Homo sapiens: one gene and its partners. The protein of the gene in region 1 interacts with the protein of each later gene in a biochemical or structural test. Each region holds a gene or a part of one and is shown on either strand. Other genes may lie near its edges.

What was found. The genes of interacting proteins can lie anywhere in the genome.
Region 2: the proteins of ITGB2 (region 1) and COPS3 form a complex in vitro, tested with the Homo sapiens proteins (one study listed by IntAct).
Region 3: the proteins of ITGB2 (region 1) and RANBP9 form a complex in vitro, tested with the Homo sapiens proteins (one study listed by BioGRID and IntAct).
Region 4: the proteins of ITGB2 (region 1) and MAPK8IP1 form a complex in vitro, tested with the Homo sapiens proteins (one study listed by IntAct).

The regions. Positions count from the first base shown.
Region 1 is NC_000021.9:44,900,400-44,904,643, forward strand, and holds part of ITGB2 (integrin beta-2 isoform 1 precursor), read right to left. Parts: intron 3,137-4,244; coding exon 2,966-3,136; intron 1,335-2,965; coding exon 1,093-1,334; intron 77-1,092; coding exon 1-76.
Region 2 is NC_000017.11:17,264,247-17,267,746, forward strand, and holds part of COPS3 (COP9 signalosome complex subunit 3), read right to left. Parts: intron 736-3,500; coding exon 556-735; intron 1-555. UniProt on the Homo sapiens protein: Component of the COP9 signalosome complex (CSN), a complex involved in various cellular and developmental processes.
Region 3 is NC_000006.12:13,635,336-13,638,835, reverse strand, and holds part of RANBP9 (ran-binding protein 9), read left to right. Parts: intron 1-880; coding exon 881-1,028; intron 1,029-3,500. UniProt on the Homo sapiens protein: May act as scaffolding protein, and as adapter protein to couple membrane receptors to intracellular signaling pathways. Acts as a mediator of cell spreading and actin cytoskeleton rearrangement.
Region 4 is NC_000011.10:45,895,651-45,899,150, forward strand, and holds part of MAPK8IP1 (C-Jun-amino-terminal kinase-interacting protein 1), read left to right. Parts: intron 1-2,434; coding exon 2,435-2,540; intron 2,541-2,745; exon of another isoform or gene 2,746-2,821; intron 2,822-3,395; exon of another isoform or gene 3,396-3,441; intron 3,442-3,500. UniProt on the Homo sapiens protein: The JNK-interacting protein (JIP) group of scaffold proteins selectively mediates JNK signaling by aggregating specific components of the MAPK cascade to form a functional JNK signaling module. Required for JNK activation in response to excitotoxic stress.

The sequences.
Region 1 (4,244 bases):
CGTCGCCCGCGAAATGGAAGCCGTCATCAGTGGCAAACACCAGCAGCCGCGTGACGTTGCGCCAGCCGATTTCCTCCTGAGAAGAAGGCGTGGGGGGCAGGGTTACCTGCCTCAGTTTCCCAGACCCGGCCCTCTGGAGCAGAGGAGACGATGCAGAGCTGGTGGGGTGGCCCGGAGGCTGGTGTGGGTCCCCCTTTCCCCTGGGTCTCAGGGACCCAGCTGTGTTCCCCCAGACGCCACGCCCAGGAGGAGACAACGGCCCTCAAACACCCCGTGCACATGTGAGGCGCAGGGAGTGGAGGCACGTGTGGAAAGGCAAGGAGAGAGACACGGCTGCGGTCCCTGCACTTCAGAGCTGGGAACAAACCCTCAGGAAACCATCCCCAAGGGGAAAAACCCTCGCAGACGTGTGGGCCACACGCAGAACGAGTGCAACATGGAGGAAAACGAGCCTGAGGGGCCCAGCAGGCCTTGAGTCCACCATTGACAGCCCCTGGCAGGCGCATGTGGGGGCCGTGCGTGTCCTAGGCTGTGACCTCACACTCGTGAGCAGTGTGTCTGCGCTGGGACTGCAGGGAAGCAGGAGAGCTAAGGTGGGTTGTGAGGGGAGGACAGTGCATGTGGCCTCAACATGGCCCAGGGACTGTGGCTGCTCTGTTAGGCTGACAGTCACAAACTGGGTGGGCGGGACGTGGAGAGCGACACACACTGGGCAGCCAGCGCCCACCCGGCCTGGAGGGAGGAGGGTGGTTCCACCCCAGGAACCACGGGACCTGCTGCCTAGCGGCCCTGTTCCACCCTTGGCCGCTCGCAAAATGTTTAGGCTTCATAAGGTTTGCCCAGGGTCACAAATTTAACTCACAGCAAACAATGAAATCAGCGCATGATTTTCGAGCCCTCGTGGTCACCCTCCCTTCCTCCTGCCCTTTCCTGCATGGGCAGCAGCAGGGTGAGGAGCTGCTCTCCCCAGGCCCAGGCTGGAGTCCCTCAGACGACCTGCCGGCCAGGGTACCCCCCTGCCCCCACACAGCGCCTGACAGAGCCCCCCACACTGGGGGAACGTGGGGACCCAAGCAGGGGCAGCGGCCTCACCGGGCAGGCGGCGACCTGCATCATGGCGTCCAGCCCACCCTCGGGTGCATCCAGGTTTCCGGAAATCAGCTGCTTCCCGACCTCGGTCTGAAACTGGTTGGAGTTGTTGGTCAGCTTCAGCACGTGCCTGAAGGCAAACGGGGGCTGGCACTCTTTCTCCTTGTTGGGGCATGGGTTTCGCAGCTTATCAGGGTGCGTGTTCACGAACGGCAGCACGGTCTTGTCCACGAAGGACCCGAAGCCTGCAGGGCACATGGAGGGGCTGGGGAGGTGGCAGGCTGGGCCCAGGTGGGAGGGCCAGCTTCAAAGGGGCACGAGGGCAAGCCTGTTTCCTCTCTCCTAGCAGGGAGGTGGAGAAAGCAAGATGGCACATGTGGAGTGTGTGTGTGAGCATGTGCGTTGTGCAAGCACACATGTGAACGTATGTGGGCGTGTGTGTGAACCTGGGAGTGTGCAATGTACATGGATGAGCATAAGTGTATGCATGTGTGTTCCTGCATGTATGTGTGTGACCAGGTATACATGTGGGCATGTGAACAGGTGCGTATGTGTATCTGTGTGTGCAGCCATCTGCATGTGTAAACATGAGTGTGTACATGCGTAGCACAACTGTGTGTGCACGTATTCCTGTATGCATGTGAGCATGTTCAGGTATGGACACACCTAGTTCACGTAGGTGACCAGGTACATATGTGGGCATGTGTGTTTATGTACGATTTATACATGTGAGTGAAGACATACATGGGTGATCATGAGTGTGCATGTGAGCATGTCTGTGTGCACATGTGGTCTTGCACGTGTGTATGACTGTGTGTGCATGTGTGTGCACATGCAAGTGTGAGCATGCATTCATGTGTGTGAGCATGCATTTGTGTGTGAGCGTGCATTCACGTGTGTGAGCGTGCATTTGTGCATGTGAGCATACATTCGCGTGTGTGAGCATGCATTTGCGTGTGAGCATACATTCATGTGTGAGCATACATTCACATGTGAGAGCATGCATTTGTGTGTTTGAGCATGTGTGTGAGCATACATTCACGTGTGTGAGCATGCATTCACGTGTGTGTGCATTTGAGTTTGGGTGTGCTTTTGTGTGTGAGCATGCATTCGCGTGTGTGAGCATCCATTTGTGCATGTGAGGATACATTCATGTGTGAGTGTGCATTCGCATGTGTGAGCGTGCATTTGCGTTTGAGCATGCATTTGTGTGTGAGTGTGCATTGCATGTGTGAACATGCATTTGTGTGTGAGCGTGCATTCACGTGCATGAGCGTGCATTTGTGTGTGAGCGTGCATTTGTGTGAGCATGCATTTGCTTGTGTGTGTGTGTGTTATCGTGCATGTGTGCATCCCCGCATGTAGGGAAGGTGGCAGAGTGCCGATGTGAGAAGCCACGGCCGGCGGGGAAGACATGCGCTGTGACTGACACACACGTGTGCTGGAGACCTGCTCTGTGGCAAGGCAGTGCTGGTGTAGAGCGGAGCCCTTGGCCCAGCAGAGCTTGCTGTGTGGTTTCTTCAGTGCTGCCGTCGCTGTGCCGTCTATATGTGTTGTGGTCTTTAATGTTTAATAATTGGCACTGTCAGAATTTTGTCTTTTAAACATACCAAGAAATAAATAAAGGAAGTAGAAGATGGAAGGGGAAGTGGAGGGCTGGACAATGTCTACAAGTGTTGGGGAGCCAGGGACTGGGTGTGGCCCCTGGCAGGGAGGCAGGCCGACTGCAGCCCTGTGGATGCCCTGGGGGGACCTGCATCTGGGGCCCCCAGATCTACCCTGGGGACCTGAGTGCGAGGAGTTGTGTGGGCCACAGGCAGGAGTGGCCAGGGTCTGGGAAAGGACTGGGTTTTGTCCTGCAGTGCCTGGGCCTCACCAATGCGGCCGGACTCGGTGATCTCGTTGAGGGCCCGGAGCAGGTCGCCACCTAGCTTCTTGACATTCCTGAGGTCATCAAGCATGGAGTAGGAGAGGTCCATCAGATAGTACAGGTCGATGGGGTAGCCCTTGGCCCGCCGGAAGGTCACGTTGAACGCTGCTGCCTGGCCTGCCGGTGGGGACAGAACAAAAGGAGCCACACCTCACATCTCACACAGGGTGTCTGGGGGCGTGTGGCCCCGAGCGGGCTGTGCACTGGCACCCTCTCCTCCAGCCCCCAAATCCTCCTGACCTCCCCTCTCCCCGCCTGGCAGGAGAGCTGAGGACCAGACACAGGACATCCAGGCAGGCTGGAGTTTCAGAGGAAGGACATGACTCCCGGACGCAGGCATGTGCCTCGCAGTGACACTGAAACCCGCCTGGGGTGCTTAGAGTTGACGCCAGCGACATTGGGGACGCCTTTCATTGAGAGTGGCAGCGGCTCACCTGGGCTCACACCTAACCCGGCCCCATGCCTGCAGTCCCACGGGCGCCCTCATCAGCAGCCACATAGACAGGCATCACACGAACCTGGCACTTCCCAGCAAGGCCCACGCGGGCCGTCCCCAGGAGGCCCCTTTCTCCATCCCAGCCCTGGACTTCCGCTCGCCCGCGTCTCAGTCACACGTGCGGTTGTGTAGCTGTCTGTTTACCTGTCACCGCAACCAGCCTGTGTCCCTGGCTCCCAGAACCGTGCCTGGTACAAGTCAGCTCTCCATAAACACACATCATGTTAATGAATGAGCAGGGAGGGAGGGTGACGAAGCCTGTCCCCTCTGCCCCACCCTCCAGCCTTCAGCCCCCCTGGGCGGCAGGACAAGTGCAGAGCCCACTCCACCCCCAACCTGCCTGCTGCCACACCCTGGGAGAAAGGGTATGTGCCCCTCCTCACAGACACACACACACGCACTCCTACACATAAATACACCACATGCACACACAGTCACACATGGCATACACACCCACATATATGCACACACACAATACTCACACACAAATATAACTCATGCACACACAGTCACACGTAGCACACACGCACCCACATATACACGCACATGGCACCCACACACAGCAAACACACCACAAATATGCACACACACCACAAACACCAACCACCACACATGCACGCATACACACACACCTCACACTCATACACAACACCAGACACAAAGCACACATACTATATGTACTTGTTCATATACACAAACACACCACATGCACGCACACACACTCGCACA
Region 2 (3,500 bases), on another chromosome or scaffold:
AAAGTGGTTTATTAATCAATATTGTGTATCTCTTTTTCAGAGTCTGAGTAAACCTCCAGAATATTCTACCAAATTGTGTACTATGTTTCATTACACAGACACAGAAAGGGTGGGAGGGACTTTTACTGTGTACTCCTTTCTACCCTTTAAATTTTGAATCAAGAGAATGTTTCACTGATTAAATAAAACTTAACAAAATACCACACATGGTTTTAGAATAAGACACAACCAAGATCACTCAGTTCAATCTCTTCCTTATATGCAAAGGAAGCTATAAAGGTCAAGAGATGTCATAACTTATTCCAAATCAGATAAGGTATAAGTGCAAGCCTAGATTAGAACCCCCAGACAAGTGCTCTTCTATGCACTGGCGCTGCTCCTCAACTTAGGGATCAGGTTACCACTATTTACATGATCACAGAGAAGTAGTCTCTGAAAGGACCAACACCTGAAACGGAGGCCCTGGGATCAGACCACTCTAGCCACAAACCTATGGGAGCACTTTTTTGATCACACAAGTTCAGAACAACCTCAGCTAATTTTTAGAGAGATTACCTGTTCATAAAAGTAGAGAGCTCTTTCAAAGTTCTTCAGCCCAGTATAGATCATCCCTCCATAATAATAGTAACATAAAAAGTGTTTTGCATCATAGGCTCCATTCTCTTTACAGATATCCATCATATCCACGTCAAGATATGGAAGGGCAGGCTTAAAGCATTTTGCTAGCAAACAAAGCTGTGAACAAATTGATATTAAATCATCACTTTAATTTTACTTAGGCAGGTATTAGCAGAAGGAGAAAATTCATTGATTCCAGAAATTTCCAAATAATGTAATTGTGTTTTACATTTTATTGACTAAAATTATCTAAATGTCAACACATTTCATGTATCTGCTATCTGAAATGCTTAGGACCACAAGTGTTTCAAATTTTGGAATATTTGCAGAATACATACCAGTTAAGCATCCCTAATCTGAAAACCTGAAATCCAATTGCTCCAATGAGCACTTTGAGTGCCAAGTTGGCATTCTAAAGATTTCAGATTTTGGAGCATTTTGGGTTTCAAATTTTTGGATTGGGTTTCAAATTTTCAGATTAGGAATAGTCAACCTGTACTCCATTTTCTTAGCCATTCAGAAAAAAACAGCATTACCTTTTTTTTTTTTTTTGAAATGGAGTCTCACTCTGTCACACAGGCTGGAGTGCAGTGGCGTCATCTCAGCTCACTGCAACCTCCACCTCCCGGGTTCAAGTGATTCTCCTGCATTAGCCTCCCGAGTAGCTGGGATTACAGGCGTGCACCACCACACCCAGCTAATTTTTGTATTTTTAGTAGAGACAGGGTTTCACCACATTAGCCAGGCTGGTCTCGAACTCCTGACCTCAAGTGATCCGTCCACCTTGGCCTCCGAATGTGCTAGGATTACAGGCGTGAGCCACCTCACCTGGGGGAGCATTTCTTTATAAAAAGCTAAACAGCTATAAGGCCAAGCATGCTATAGATGATTGAGAATAGAGAACTCTACAGACAAGACTCACTTATCTCTTAACCTATCCCTACCCATCTGATTAGAGGGAAAAAGAGTGTGTCCTCTTTCTTTACTGAACTAGTGGAATAGAAAGAGACCAGCATGGTGTGATACAAGTAGAAGTGGTTCCTTTAATTAATCCTTTAGGTAAATACAGGGAATTGTGCAACTCAAGAAAGCAAGCCCTTAGAACAGTTATCTAGCTAATGGAGACGCAGTGTAGACATGCGTACAAACTCACTGAGCTATACACTTTAGTATTTTACTGTCTATATGTTGTACCTCAATCACAATTTTTTTAAAACATTAAAAAGCACATCTTCATATGAAACTAGAACATGTGTTTGAAATAATCCACATACCATGTTATTCTTGAAGGAAACAATGTAAATATCCCATGCAGACTTCTAAAACCATCGCATACTCATATTATAGAATACTCCGTACCTGTAGAGTACTGCTACAGAATCATCTCCAAGATATGTTAAATACAAAAAGCAAGCTACATAAGAGTATGCATAGATTATTACAATTTGTGTAAAAAATGAGAAAATATATATTCGTATTTGCTTTTATGTCCATAAAAAGTTTTTGGAAGGATACACGAGAAATAACTAACATAGTTTCCTTTGTAGAGAAGAAATAGATGGCTAGCAAACAGAATGGGAAGGAGACTTCATTATATACCTGCCCTTTTGCCTTCTGGACTTTGAACATCGCAAAATAAGATAAATAAATGAGGCCAGGCACGGTGGTTCACACCTGTAATCCCAGCACTTTGGGAGGCTGAGGTGGGCGGATCGCTTGAAGTCAGGAGTTCAAGACCAGCCTGACCAAAATGGTGAAACCCCATCTCTACTAAAAATACAAAAATTAGCCGGGTGTAGTGGTGCACGTCCACAATCCCAGCTACTCAGGAGGCTGAGGAAGGAGAATTGCTTGAACCTGGGAGGCGGAGCTTGCAGTGAGCCTAGATCATGCCACTGCACTCCAGCCTGGGCAACAGAGCAAGACTCCATCTCAAAAAATAAAAAAAAAAAAGATAAATGAATAACATTTTAAGGTGTAAGAAGTTAGCTATGTTAAGTCTCAGGTTCCACAATTTTTTTTTAGTAGAGATGGGATTTCTCCATGTTGGTCAGGCTGGTCTGGAACTCCGGACCTCAGGTGATCCGCCCGCCTCAGCCTCCCAAAGTGTTGGGATTACAGGCGTGAACCACTGCACCTGGCAGGCTCCACAATTTTAAAAAAATGATTCGGGATTTTAAAAAAAGTTACAGGCCGGGCACAGTGGCTCACGCCTGTAATCCCAGCACTTTGGGAGGCTGAGGCGAGCGGATCACGACGTCAGGAGATTGAGACCATTCTGGCTAACACAGTAAAACCCCGTGTCTACTAAAAATACAAAAAAATTAGCCAGGCGTGATAGCGGGCGCCTGTAGTCCCAGCTACTCGGGAGGCTGAGGCGGGAGAATGGCGTGAACCCGGGAGGCGGAGCTTGCAGTGAGCTGAGATGGCGCCAGCCTGGGCGACAGAGCAAGACTCCGTCTCAAAAAAAAAAAAAAAAAAAAGTTACAACTAGGGCCGGGTGTGGTGGCTCACACCTGTAATCCTAGCACTTTGGGAGGCTGAGGCGGGTGGATCATGAGGTCAGGAGTTCAACGCCAGCCTGGCCAACATGGTGAAACCCTGTTCTACTAAAAATACAAAAATTAGCTAGGCTTGGTGGTGGGTGCTTGTAGTCTCAGCTACGCGAGAGGCTGAGGCAGGAGAATTGCTTGAACCCGGGAGGCAGAGGTTGCAGTGAGCTGAGATTGTGCCACTGCACTCCAGCATGGGCGACAAAGTGAGACTGTCTCAAAAAAAAAAAAAAAAAAAGTTACAACTATTAATTACCCTATCTGTTCGACAAGCTTACTAGTTGAGCCCCATCCTACAGTTTGCATCCAGCACCCGCCTGAATGTAATAG
Region 3 (3,500 bases), on another chromosome or scaffold:
CTCTTGCAAAAGTCAGCTCTGCCTAGTTCGTTTTCTCCCATCCGTTTGTTGGCTCACCAGTCTTACTCTCTGTGACTTTGGGCTTTCTCTTAATTAAAATTCTCTCCTTTCTTGGCTTTTGTGACATCACTTCTACAGGTTTTTTTGGTTTTGTTTTTGTTTCTTTTTAAAGAGTTGGAGTCTCGCAATGTTTCTGATGCTGGTCTCAAACTCCTGGCCTCAAGCACTGCTCCTGCCTCAGCCTCCCAAAGTGCTGGGCTTACAGGTGTGAGCTACCGTGCCCAGCCACAGATTTATTTCTGATGCTTCTCAGTCTTCTGTTTGCCCATCTCTTTAATTCTGCATTTCCCAAGATGTTATCTTTGTACATTTAACATTCTTAAACAAGTCAGATAGTGTCTCCTTTCCTTTCATGAAGTAACACCATTGCTTTTTCTTATTTCAATTTATTCTCTTTTCTGCATTACTTCCTCTCAGTTTATTTACATCACCACTCTGTACAACAAGTGTGATTCCCATGTCTGTTCTTAGCCACTACTCCTCTTGAATATCATACAGTCACTTCAGGCTTGGATAAATTCTGAGCCTCAGTGTATTCATATGTAAAATGGGGATGATCATAATATTGCCATTTTAGGGGGATTTTGAGGATTAAATGAGATGTGTAATTAAGCCTTCAATAAATGTTAGATGAGGTAATAATTAAGATCTCACAATTAAGTATTCTTAGTATCCTTTCAAAGAAGTTACCTGTTTACATCATCCATTGACTCTCCTACGTTCTAGAAGTCTTAGTACAAAATCAACATGGAGACTTGTTTACAACCGTATTAATAAATTAGTGTTTGTTTCTGTTTCTACGTGGTATCTTTTTCTTCAGGTTTTGAAAGTTGTAGTAATGGTGTAATATCAAATAAAGCACATCAATCATATTGCCATAGTAATAAACACCAGTCATCCAACTTGAATGTACCAGAACTAAACAGTATAAATATGTCAAGATCACAGCAAGTTAATAACTTCACCAGGTAAGTAATTTCACTGACTTTTGCACTAATATAAGCAACCTAGTTATAGGTGTAATCGTTGTAATAATTTTGAAAGAACTTGAATTATGTGACCCACAGAGGGGCTCTGGGAGTTCTTAAGCCCCCAGAGAATAAAAGCGTAGGGAGTCAGTTCCCCAAAGCTTTTTAGTCTCCTATTATGCACATGAGCTCTTTCCTTAGTTTCTTCCTCTTCTCTACTACCTTCTTCCCTCTAGTAAAGTTATAAGGACAAATTCAGGGCTTCATGCATTGTCTTCCTGCCAGCCACAGAGCTATACAAATGATCACATAAATGCCATTTGTTATGTTTTCACAGTGGTTAAGACACAGTAGCATATTTAACCTTGAACGGTGACATAAGATAAATTTACAACTGATTTTTTCTCTGTGTGTGAGTTTTTTTTGGTGTAAATGTGTAGAATGTTTTCCAAGTTCAAAACTAACTTTACAAATAATCTTTTTTGAAAGCCTGCCTTTAAGTAGCTTGCATATAGCAGATGGTTAAGTCATTTAGTAAACATTGGTGTGAGGATGGTTTTGAGGATTTGTTGGGCACCAAACATTCTGCTAGGTAGGGTGTCTCACTTTGAAGAGGTTTGAAAGATGATATCTCAGTCAGTGTACTATGACCCTTGATATACTCAGGTTTAATATTTATGAAACCTAAAAGTTCATGAAGTGACATTATTTGAATTAAATACTACTGTGCAGTAGCAAATTATTGTGAATTCACCCTGCCCAAATCATCCAGGACTGGGTCAATTTAATATTGGTTTGGTCTATAACAAACCAGTTGGTTACATTGCATTTTCAGGAAATGGTCATCAGTGCCACATTTTCTTATTAAAGGAGAGAGAGCCTAACTTTTAGCATGGAATCTTAATGGAAATATGATTTTGCAGAAAGGATTGTATGTAAAAAAAAATCTGTATTTGAAAATTGGGAGATTAATCTCAATTTCTGGGTTGTCTGTCACACGTGACAAAAATTTACTGAAGTAATAGTGTGTGTGATTGATATAAGTTGTAATGGAGAACCACAAAAGTGTATGAGAAGAGCAGAAAAATCGTCTTTCACAGCAGAGGTGATATATTGGAAAATATAAAATCAAAATATTATAGTTTAAAAATAGATGGAAATGTAAAAAGTTAAGTACTTCATCATGCTTTATACTAAATGCATTGGTACTTTATCATTGATCAAGGCTCTTGCCAATGTTTGAGGGTAAGATTGCAGTCAGTTTGTGAGTTTTTCTCTTGAATACTATCCCTACAGCAGGAAGTTGCTAAACAGATCTATTATTACCTGAGTTCAGGGAAGCAAGCTTAACGGAAGGGTCTGATGACACAACATCCTCCTTTGTCTGCAGTATAAAAGGGAAAGAAAGTCAACTTTGAACTGCCTTAAGCTATAAGTTATTTTGTAGTTGGTAATGGCTTTCCTAACTGTGAAGTAGGCAAAGATGGTATTAACTATTTAAACCATTTTACAGATGTAGAGCGGGATATCAGAAAAGTAAATGACTTTTTTTTCTTAAGGTCAATTATTAGTAGCTAGTAAGTTGCAGAGCTGAGGCTGCGTTTCAGGATTTGACTTGCAAACTTGTGCTTTTTCCCTGATACCGCCCACCATCTGAAATGCTCTTCTTCCTACCCTCCCTCACCTCCAGTATAACTTCTGTCCAGGCTGAGAAAATTCAAGTTCAGATGTCAGTTCTTCCAGGATGTTTTCCTTGATTTACATCCCATCAAATATGTCATGTTTTGTGATTAACTTCCATCATAGTACTGATCATAATTACTCTGTAATATAATAACTTAATTAGCTTTTTATAGGTTGTTTGCTACAGGAAGGCAGAGGCTGTTTCATAATATCCTTAGCACCTAACAGGGATCATACCTCAGAGGCTCTTAAATGTGTGTTAAATGAACGAGTTCCTTCCAAATACTAAACTGAGTTATCAAAAAAAAAAAAAAAGTTTAGTATTTTTTAAAAAGCCACTGAAAGCTGTGATGGTAAGGATTTTCTTATTCTTAAAGTTTGGTTTTTCTTACCAATTTTCGAAGTTTGTTAAGATTATAAACAAGCTTTCCTGGTTGAGTAAGTCTGCTCTGGAGTCGTAGGGCCATATCCCCCTTTTCCCTAGATCTCTTGTTTTTTTTTTTTTTACCTTAACAATTTTACTAACAGGAGTGTATGCATGCACACACACACCCCCAAGGTGTTAGAATTTGTTACCTCTGGTGGTATTACGCATAGTGGTTTTTGCTCATCTGTGTTTTTTTTTCTACAATTGAATATATATTGCTTTTGTAATGAGAAATGTCATTTTTATCTAAGCATTACCTAAAATTTCATCGAGTGTTTACTTCTAGATTGTATAATTATTACCTAGGCTTCCATAGGATAAATCCTAAAGATTAGATATTTATTGTTGCTTATAAGAGTGCG
Region 4 (3,500 bases), on another chromosome or scaffold:
TATATATATATGTGCAGAGGTCACTGGCAGAGCAGGGGCATTTCAGGGCACCTCTGGGTCAGCGGTCCTGCAGCTCTCCCATGCCATCTGAGTACCAGGGGCTCCCTTTTGCACCACTGGCCTTCTCGGTGACCATCTGGGCAACCAGTGTGAATTGAACACTTACTTGGTGCTGGCCACTGGGTTTTTGTCCCTGAGCCTGAGATGCCACCCTGCCCTGGCCGGACGGAGGAGGGCTGCTCTGGCTTCTGGGCCAGGCCCTCCTCCCCACTTCCACCCCAGCTGGCCAGCCACACCCTCCCCATGGCCTGGGGAACCACCACCCTTGGGCTGCAGGTCAGACGTGACCCTACAGGGCACCTTGTCCATCCAGCCCCCATTCCCCACCCCTCTGTGCAGTGCCCTCCAGGGGCCTCCAGGTTCTGTTTATGTCATTCCAAAGGGAGAGGAAGCTCATTACCACACAGCAGCCCTTCCAGCTCTGCTCTAAGGGCCCAAACACTGGCCTGCCCTTAGCTGTGGCTCTGGTGCCTCCTGCTTCCATAGGCCCTGCCTTCCTGGGTCCTGAAGGCTCAAGCTCTGGCTGCAGAAGGAGGCAGCCCAGATCAAACCCAGTTTGGATGCAGCCTGGGCCCACAGAAGCCTCTCTGATGAGGTCGGGGGGCTGAGCCTATGGCAGTGCAAACCGAGTGTTCATTCTTAGGGTGTTTGGGAAGCCCCCCTTCATCTCCCACCTGGCACCCTGACTGGGGAACTGGCCCTTTAAAGCCAACCAAGGGCTGGCTTTTGGGGGGAAACATCCTAGATTTCTGCCATCTACTTACAAGCCTGGGCCAGGGAGGGGGGGCCACTCAGCCCCCGACAGGGGCATTGGAAGGGCAGGTGGAGCCAGTGGCATTGATTGCAGTAACCTGATCCCGTGAGGGAGGCGGCCACAGCGGCAGCAGCGCAAGGGCCAGGCCAGCCGGGAGGAAGGTGCCTGCAGCTGAGGGCTGCGCTGGGAAGAGCTGGGGCTGGGACCCGGGTCGGCAGCTGCAGCCTCCTCTCCTGGCCTGTCTATTTTTAATGAGCTCCCCAGGCTTCTGCAGCAGGCAGGACGCAGAAAGACAGGCCCAAGCGGTGGAGGCCAGAGGCCCCCAGCCCTGCCTTGAGCCCTGGCCCCCCCACCCTTCCGGGCATGAGAGGGCAGCCCTGGGGCCCCGCAGCCCCCCGGCCGGGCAGGGCTCTCCATGCAGCTGGTGCTGAAGATGGATTCGAGCCCAGACAATGACAGCTGGTTGGAGGATCAATGGGAGCGCTGGTAGGGGCTACCGGGGCTGGCGGGGGTGGAGACCGAGTTGGGGTGAGCTCCATCGAGCTCAGGGTCTCTGATCTGAATGAGGCGAGTGGCAGGGAGTCTGGGCCTCCTAGGTTCCCCTGGGGGCTAAGCCACCATCTCTCCTGGGTGACCTTGAACTAGTGGGTTTCCCTTGCTCTGTGCCTCAATTTCTTGGACTTATTTGGGAAAAGGCTCATACATTCTCCCCAACTTCCTAAATGTTCTACCCCCCCACCACCCCCCCAGCAAGCCAGGCAGAGTGCCCAGGACCTAGAGGTGAGCAAGAGACAGGCTGCCTTGCAGTGGCTGGCCCAGCCCTGCATTCTGAGGTGGGGACTCAGGGCTGGCCTAGGGAGAGGGGGGTTCTAGTGGAGCTGGTTAGTATTCTGGTGCCCTGGTGCTCTGAGCTGTCTCCCAAGGTTGTAACACCTCTGGTCCCACCTGGGGCTTCTCCTGACCCCATCTGTGCAGCCTCCTGTTCAGGGTCCTTACACTGGATAAGGAGAAGATGTTGTGGTTGAAGAGATGAGACCACCAAGTGCACAGCATGAGGCTGGAGTCCTTTCTGGAATAGGCTGAAACTACCCACACTGACACCAGATTTTCCTTCGCTTGTTCCCTGGGCTCAAGGGGCATGAGTCTTCCTGAGCTGGGGCGTGGGGCACTCCTCTGAGGCTGCTGCCGGCGCCTCGGGTCTTGCTACTGCAGGGATTGCACTGGGAGCTCCCCTACTCCAGGCTGCTCTTCTCAAGTCCACATTCTCCATGGTGAACTGGCCTTGGCACCTGCCTTGACCCTGGGAGGAGGCTCTGACCAGTTGGGCCTTCTAAGCACTGCCTGCTGGTTGGCAACAGAATGACAGCTTCCAGGGAGGAGCCAGAGTGACCTGGAGCCTCCTCTTCCACTGCCACCCTAGGAGGACTGCCTTTTGGCACAAGCCCCTCGCTCTTTCCCTGCCTGCTGACCACCCCCTGCATTGATACAGATGAACCCCAAATCCTGTCCTCTGGGGGCTGTGTTTGGCCTTCAAGAGGCTGCACCCTGGAAGAGGTAACAGGGAGATGTGAGCAGGCATAGTGCCCCTGAGTTGTAACTTTGGCTTCCTGTCCCCACCAGGCTCACCCATGACATCAGCCTGGAGGAGTTTGAGGATGAAGACCTCTCGGAGATCACTGATGAGTGTGGCATCAGCTTACAGTGCAAAGACACCCTGTCCTTACGGGTAAGGGCAAGCTCCCAGGAGCTCCTGAGTGGGGTGGCAGGAAGGCTAGGGACAGGGGTAAGGGTATCCCCATAGTGACAAAGGGGGTTTCAGGTCTGTGCTGGCACCCTCATGAAATGAAATGATGTGCAAGAAACATAGGTATACTGCTTGGCACGTCTTGAGTGTACAATCAGAATTTCATTTGGTATTATTATTATTATTACTGCTGTCGGGGACTAAGACAGGAAGTAGCTCCTTCAACTGCCCACGAGATGGGAGAGGCCAGGAAGTCTTGAGACCTAGGGCAGTAACAATTAGGACCAGACTTAAGGGAGACTCAGGGCTACCCCTGAATCCTTTTGGGAGCAGCCCTGGCAGAGGGCCTGAGGCAGACAGGGTGGAGTCTGGTGGAATCTGCAGTGCTTTAGGGCAGGAAGAAACAGCCAAGGCACCCCTGGAATAGCTCCTGTGGCTGCTGGCTGCTATTACACCAGACAGATGGCACCACGCGGCCTCCCAGACCCTCTCTGGCCTATAGTCCTAAAGGCCCCCACTGAGGGGTTTGCCCAGCATTGCTGCTGGTTTGGGCCCCTTGGCTTTGTCATAGGGAAGATGGCTCTCTCCTGTCCCTAAAGATCTGAATGCTGCCAGGAGGTCCCCAGCACCTGGGTAACTGGGGTCAGATGGGGATCCCAACTATGTCTTTTCAGAACAGGAAGAAGGGGCCGGCTTGCCAGGAAATGGAGGACAGAGCACAGGGCTAGGTTTTAGAGCCCAGAGCTCCTCTGAGCCCCCAAGAGGGCGGGTAGCCAGATACGGTGTCAGGAGAGTGGTTACCATAGGAGCGTGAGGTGTGCCTTGGGGAGGGAGTACCTGTCTCTGTGTTGACCTCCTGCTACTCCCAGAGACTCAGTAAGCTCTGCAAGAGGAAACCAAGGGGTGAGGATAATCCCCTAGTCCCCAGTACCCCAACCTTCC